Homo sapiens: one gene and its partner. The protein of the gene in region 2 purifies or fractionates together with the protein of the main gene of each other region. This does not show direct contact. Each region holds a gene or a part of one and is shown on either strand. Other genes may lie near its edges.

Region 1 (3,500 bases), on a different chromosome or scaffold from region 2:
CACACAGGGTTCCCTGAACCCTTTTTAATGCAAAGTCTGTGCATCTTGAGTGAAAGGGGTTCCCTTCTTTTGAGGATCCCTTTAAGTGGGTGCTACCTAAGACTGCAGGTCCACGGTCTCAAATAATTCTCTTCTTTCCTCCAAACCAAGAAGTCACGAATAACCTAAATTAAAAATAAATGTTCACTGCATCAAATGTGTAGCCAACAATTTGGTGCCAGGCACCGTGCCTCACGCCTGTAATCCCAGCACTTTGGAAGGCCGAGATGGGCGGATCACTTGAGGTCACGAGTTCAAGACCAGCCTGGCCAACATGGTGAAACCCTCTCTCTACTGAAAATACAAAATTAGCCTGGCATGGTGGCGGGTGCCTGTAATCCCTGCTACTCAGGAGACTGAGGCAGGAGAATCACTTGAACCCGGGAGGTGGAGGTTGCAGTGAGCCAAGATCACTCCATTGCACTCTACTAGCCTGGGCAACAAGAGCGAAACTCCAATTCAAAAAAAAAAAAAAAAAAGTGCTGGGATTACAGGCGTGCCACCACACCCAGCCCTAGGGTTTCAATTACTTAGAACACAAAAGATGAACTACAAATAATTCATCTAATAAACCTTTTAAATTTTTAGCAAAAAAAATTATTTCCATTTTAAAATAAAACATTTATTAATTAATTATTTCTTGGAATACCTTTTAGGCAGGCTTACATCAATGTATTACAACTTGAAACCAAATGAAGAGAAAAACGCAGCTTAATTCTTCGAAGCCAAACTCACCCTTCTTGCCTTGCTCTGATATTTGATAGCTTTTTTTGTTTCTTCTTTAGCGTGTTCTACATAGTCTGTGGCATTCATAACATTTCTTTCTATGTTGTTGATCATTTCACCCTTAAAACAAAAAGTTTCAAACTTAGAAGACATTTTCAAATGGCTTAATCATGTATCTTTAAGACAACCATAGAACAAAGGTTTTATATAAACACGATGTGCATGTAATGGATACTGAGGGTTTTTTTCACATTTACAGAAAGATAAAAGATGAGGCCATTATACATGTGCCAGTGCAAAGCAATCAAAACTCAATTTATATTTTAAAAAGAATGAAAAGGAATGGGCCACCATGTTGATAATTAAAGGCACCTCAAGTCAATTCTGAGATACCTTTAACACGCAGACACTTTCGACAGATGGGCAGGGTGAAGGGAGGCAGCCAGCTTTTGGTTGAACTAGTATTTTACCATTATGCACAGACAGACAATATACAAAGAATGACATCTTTTCCACAAAGTAGAAAATTGTAACTACTTCTTTAAATCAGTAAACTGAGCATAGCTCACATCTGACACTCAGCTGACTACATTAATGAGCAAAATGTAAACAGAGGTGAATTCAGCAAAGTGTGAGGGAGGTAACGTATTACCTGGTTGTCTGTCCAGACACAACCTGCAGCAGTGAATCGTAAAGCATTGAAGAATGACGGAGAGTTAACTCACTCAGTCACAAACTTCAACTTACTAGTAATCTCTGACTATGCACACATTTGCATTAGATGAGTCAATATAATGCAATACCAACAGACTTCTAAAAGGAAACAGTGAAACAAAGCCAGGGATGCAGCCATTTTTCTAACGGAGCTTAATGCAATGCATTTGGTATAGAGCAATTACAATTGAAGTCTAAGGTACTACAAAAGCTTTAGTAATTACAGAAATCATCTCTCGTTCTTTCTGTCCAGCTGGTTTCCTTTGGAATGCTTCCTGGAAATAAGTAACCAATGGTAATCAGACTCCCCACACTCCACTTACCATATAATGAATGGCAACGGGGCCCCCAAAATCAAAAAGGAGTAAGATCGTCCCATCCCTGCCCTCTGTGTAGCTGTTGGTTTCCTCTAGCAAATGCTTATACATACAAACATTAGCCGGGCGTAGTGGTGCAAACCTGTGGTCCCAGCTACTCGGGAGGCTGAGGTAGGAGAACTGCTTGAGCCCAGGAGGCAGAGGTTGCAGTGAGCCAAGATTGTACCACTGCACTCCAACCTGGGCAACAGAGCAAGACCCTGTCTCAAAAAAAAAAAAAAAAATAGGCATGGTGCCTGAGTTTTTCACACACATTCTCATTATAAAGTTCTTCAAAATACAGTGTTTCTTAACAAGGTTGCTGAAGCAGGCAGGAACAATCCTGTGTGTGGATGGATTCCTATCCTTACACAATCCAGGCAGTCTCAGAAAATAAGCCCATCAGATGTGAACCTACTTAGGGGATGACTCCAGCCAAAACAGATCCGAAACCAGGCTCAGGACAAGTGAGGAAACCATTTACTTAGGATGGTTTGATATAAATGCTTCCGCTTCACCTGGTGGTCAGCTGAATCCTAACCAGCAACAGAGTCTTATCTCCATGGTATTTGAAAAATAACGAGAAGACCTTATTCAAAGACAAAGAGCGAGTGTGAACATACCCATGCACATCACAGAGCATGTGATCTGTGATCCATCCCGTACTTTACATGGAGAGTTCAATATATACATACATACATATATATGTGTGTATTTTTTTTTTTTTTTTTTGGAGACAGGGTCTCACTCTGTCACCCAGGCTGGAGTGTAGTGGCATGATCATAGCTCACCACAGCCTTGAACTCATGGGCATAAACAATCCTCCCACCTCAGCCTCCCAGAGGAGTTTTCTATTTATTAAGAATTGCATTAACTCTTCGGTTCACTCAGAAGGGCCTTTCCACACCTGCTTTCACTCCCTATCTGTGTTACTGGGCAGATGGGAAACCCCGTGTAACAGGCACAAGCTTGCATCTGTGTCATAGATTGTATCCCCACTTGGGGTTGATTCTTTCAGACATTTCTCCTAGTTATTACTGTAATATATGCTTCTTATAGAAAATCTGAAAATAAATACTTTTAGAGAAGATTAAAATTCCCATAGTCTCACTGCCATTACACTGTTTGATATACGCCTTTCCTTCTGTGGATACTGTTTTATGGAGCCAAGCTCGTGCCATGTGTTTGTGTTTATGTACTCATACATATGTACGGGCATACACAGAAGATCTTTGTATCTCCCTTTTCTCTTAATTCTAGCACAAACATCTGCATATTTCAGTAAGAATTCTCCATGAACAAAGTTTAGGTTGCCTATGGTTGCCTAAAAGGCTGACCTATGAACACTCCATAATTTAATCAACTGAACCAGTCCCTTCCTGTTAACAGTTCAACTGTTAAAGCTGCTTCCAGCATTTCAGCATCACATATAACACTGCAATTAACCTGAATTTGGTGGATCCAAAATAACAGCTTTCCTAGATACATCCACTAGACAGAGTGGGATGCAGTAAGATTTTACACATGACTGATATCTCTCTTGGAGAATGCAAGAGTCTGTAACTACCTGAGTCTCCACAAACATAGCCATGTCCATGAACATCTCATGCAACTCTCGGATGCTGGTCTCCAGCTTCATGATGTCCTTGTGACGTGACTCGATTT
Region 2 (3,500 bases):
ATTCTCCACTAACTGGCTGAGCCCATGGAGTTAAGATGCTACCAGTCAGAATACACTAGGATTCCATACCAAGAACCATCTCTAGACAGGTCCAGTACCTGCAGGTTTGTGGCGCAGGGACATCCTGATTATCTCACTACCTGTGCGGTAAGCAAAGCGATTCACTTTCTGGTCATAAAACCAGTCCCCAGTTGCTTTCTTCAACTCTCTGGGAAGAAATAAAAGAAAATGACAGATGGATAAAGAATGGTTCTTGTCTAATAAAGGCTGAGGAAAGAAATTCTCACCACGGCCAAGGCCTCGCCCCCTCTCTACTCAGCCATAGGTGACACTCACATTTCCTTGGCGCACACCTTGCACCTCCAGGTACCATTGCTTTCCTGTATGCGGCAGTCCCGACACACCAGGTGATTACAACCCCGACAAGTATTGGTTTTGGGACTCAAACGGCCCAGGCTCTCCTGGCACCGGGCACAGGTCCGATCACTGTAGTGTTGGCTGCCCCTCTTGGCCCCTTTCCTTTTTATCTCCAGTAACTCATTCTTTAGTCGCCTGCCAAGACCCAAAACAGAAGCGTAAGTGGATTCAGGATATGCATAGATTGGATGGAGAGGGGTTGAGAGGTAAAGACAGTAAGACTATTTGGTTCTGTGGAAGCAACAAACTCAGAGCCCAGCGTGACCCAATAAGTAGTGGTAAACATCACATATACAAATTCCTATGAAAGTCAGGTGGGAGACATAAGGAAAAGCCCAGACATCATTGGTCAAAGGCCTGGGACCCCATGCGTTTTGGGGAACTCTTACCTAATCCTTTTCTCATCTGCTTTCCGGACCTCTTCATCTCGCTGTAGAACACTGAGAATCAAATCCTTTTCCTCCTCAGACAGAAAAGAAAGGTCCAGTAACTCCGACATGATTTACTCAACTTTTTCTTCTACTCTTCTTTCTTCAAAACAACCAGACAAGGAGAGCTACCAGAGTTGCCTGAAATGACAAAAGAACTAATTTCACACAGATGATTTACTCAAGAATAGGCCCACAGCCCTAAACCCTTTCAATAGGTTCCTTTCCCCTTGAGCCAAGCTAAAGAGACAAAGTAGAAGTATCTGACCTATTTAGTCTTCCTACTCCCATCCGAAACATGCCCTGAAAATGAAGAGTCCTTGATTTTTCAGAAAGAAAAAGTTATTCGTGACTCTGGGAAAAGGATTGGTTATTCAGTATATGCATCTTAGTCTGGAAAGAACATAGAACAGCTGAGTCAATCTCCCCCTCCACCAAGTGAGTCCTCAATCATCCAATTTTTAATACTTTAAATGTTCTCAAATCTCAAGCCTATTAACCCAAATAACCAGGCAGCTGGTCTCTGCAGTGAAGGAGAAAAGCACATGAAGGCTCCTGCCAGTTTAAGCCCAGTTGTCTATTCCTAACCAGCTTCCATTCTCCCAGGAGTCAGTCAGCTTTCTGCTATACTTCAAAACTTCCACCCCCTACTCTATCTCTCAAAGTTCTTATCATACTAGCACTCTAGCACTACCTCCAGGATATCTTTCCCAAATTCATGAACACTTGTTGAGCACTACGCTGACAGGCATTGTGTAAAGTGCTGGGGATACAAAGATGAGTAAGGCACAGTTCCTACCCTTATGAAAATCACAGAGTAGCAGGGGAGACAGACACACATAAATACAGTACAACGCATTAAGTGCTATCAGAGGGATTATAAGGGACTATAAATTAAGTGCTATGAGAACTTAGGGAAGAAAGCAACTCATTCTATCTTGCATAGAGAGAGGAAAGAGAGCAGTATACATGGGAAATTTCACAGAAGAGGTGGATTTTGCCTTATCAGAGGACAAATTTCCTGGTAGGGAAGAATGGTAGGAAAGATAGTTTGGGACCAGATTACATAACTCTTAAAAACTTTTTTAAAATTTTAAGAATTTTGGCTCAGCATGGAGGCTCTCACCTGTAATCCCAGCACTTTGGGAGGCTGAGGCAGGAGGATCTCTTGAGCCTAGGAGTTCAAGACCAGCCTGGGCAACACAGGGCGACTCAGTCTCTACAAAAAGAAAAATCAAAACTTAGCTAGCCATGATGGTACACGGCTGCATTCCCAGCTACTCGGGAGGCTGAAGTGGGAGGATTGTTTGAGCCTGTGAGGTTGAGGCTACAGTGAGCTGAGATCACGCCATCACATGTGGCCCACTCTAGCCTGGGCAACAAAGCAAGATCCTGTCTGGAAAAAATTTTTTTTAATTTTAAAATTTACTGCATAGACAATAGAAATCCACCAAACATCTCTGATGTTGCTTTTTGATGCTGGGAAATCACATGATGAAATTCACTTTACAAAGACATATTATAGCTATATCGCTCTAGTTATAATATGAAAGACTGATTTAGAGGACAAATCAGAGGACAATTTGGTAGTACATACATTTAAAATAGGCATATACTTAACCAAGCAATATGACTTCTAAGAATTTACCTAATAGAAATATTCATACAAATGCACAAGCAAGAGTATATGCACAAGACTATTACTGCAACATTATTTGTAAGAACAGAAACAGTTATTTAACATAGGAATCATTAAACAAAATAATATGTCCCCATAATGGAACATTATGTCGCCATTAAAAATGTGGTAGATACACACGTACTGACATAAAAATATGGCCATGAGTGAAAAAGTAGTTGTAGGACAATAAAAAATGATCTTTTATAAAGAATTTATCTAAATATTTGTATATGCAAAGAGAAAGGTCTAGAACAAAAGCCACTATCATTGGTTTCCCTTGGGGAGTAGAATTGGGAAGGGGCAACTTTCACTTTTTACTTCACATAGTTCTAATTTGTTTTTACATATATCTTCCATTTATATCTCAAAAAAGAAAACAATACAAATGAGGCAGAGATATTATTACAATACTGCAGCAAAAGACAATCTAGATTTACTAACTGTGCCTCTAAACAATTAGACCAGTCATTTTATTTTTCATTTCATTTTATTTTTCATTTTTAGAGACAGAGTTTCACTATGTTGCCCAGCCTGGACTCAAATTCCTGGGCTCAAGTGATCTTCCTGCCTCAGCCTCCCAAGTAGCTGGAACTATAGACAGAGCCACCGTGCCCAGCAGAAGTCATTTTATTTCTGACTCTTTGGTTTCTCATCTACAAAACGACCCACCTCAAACGTTGTTTAAAAAATTAAATAATGTGTGTTAAAGGGCCAATCACAATGTTTGGAGTACAAATACTTGCTGAATCTTCTAAAATGATAAAGGCCTGAGCCAGGCAGCAAGAAAAAACAGAATAGGTTTGAGAAGTAGAATTGACAGAATAGGGAGACTGACTGAGCAGAGAGGATGAAGAAGGTGAAGTCAAAGATGCCTAGTTCACAGTCAAGATTAAACAACTGACTGGCTAGTGACAGCCCTCATAGCAATAGAAGATGTAAGGAAAGAAACAGGTTTGGAAGTAAGGCAAAAAGTT

Evidence for each region. Proteins that work in one complex are often made in the same cells at the same time.
Region 1: the proteins of SYTL4 (region 2) and STX2 purify together in Homo sapiens (affinity purification with mass spectrometry, with the first as the bait; one study listed by BioGRID). This does not show direct contact.

What each region holds. Positions count from the first base shown.
Region 1 is NC_000012.12:130,797,751-130,801,250, forward strand, and holds part of STX2 (syntaxin-2), read right to left. Parts: coding exon 3,403-3,500; intron 1,441-3,402; exon of another isoform or gene 1,418-1,440; intron 886-1,417; coding exon 775-885; coding exon of another isoform or gene 751-774; exon of another isoform or gene 640-750; intron 165-639; coding exon of another isoform or gene 93-164; exon of another isoform or gene 10-92; intron 1-9.
Region 2 is NC_000023.11:100,701,122-100,704,621, forward strand, and holds part of SYTL4 (synaptotagmin-like protein 4), read right to left. Parts: intron 2,065-3,500; 5' UTR 1,972-2,064; intron 987-1,971; 5' UTR 917-986; coding exon 807-916; intron 553-806; coding exon 337-552; intron 209-336; coding exon 99-208; intron 1-98. UniProt on the Homo sapiens protein: Modulates exocytosis of dense-core granules and secretion of hormones in the pancreas and the pituitary. Interacts with vesicles containing negatively charged phospholipids in a Ca(2+)-independent manner.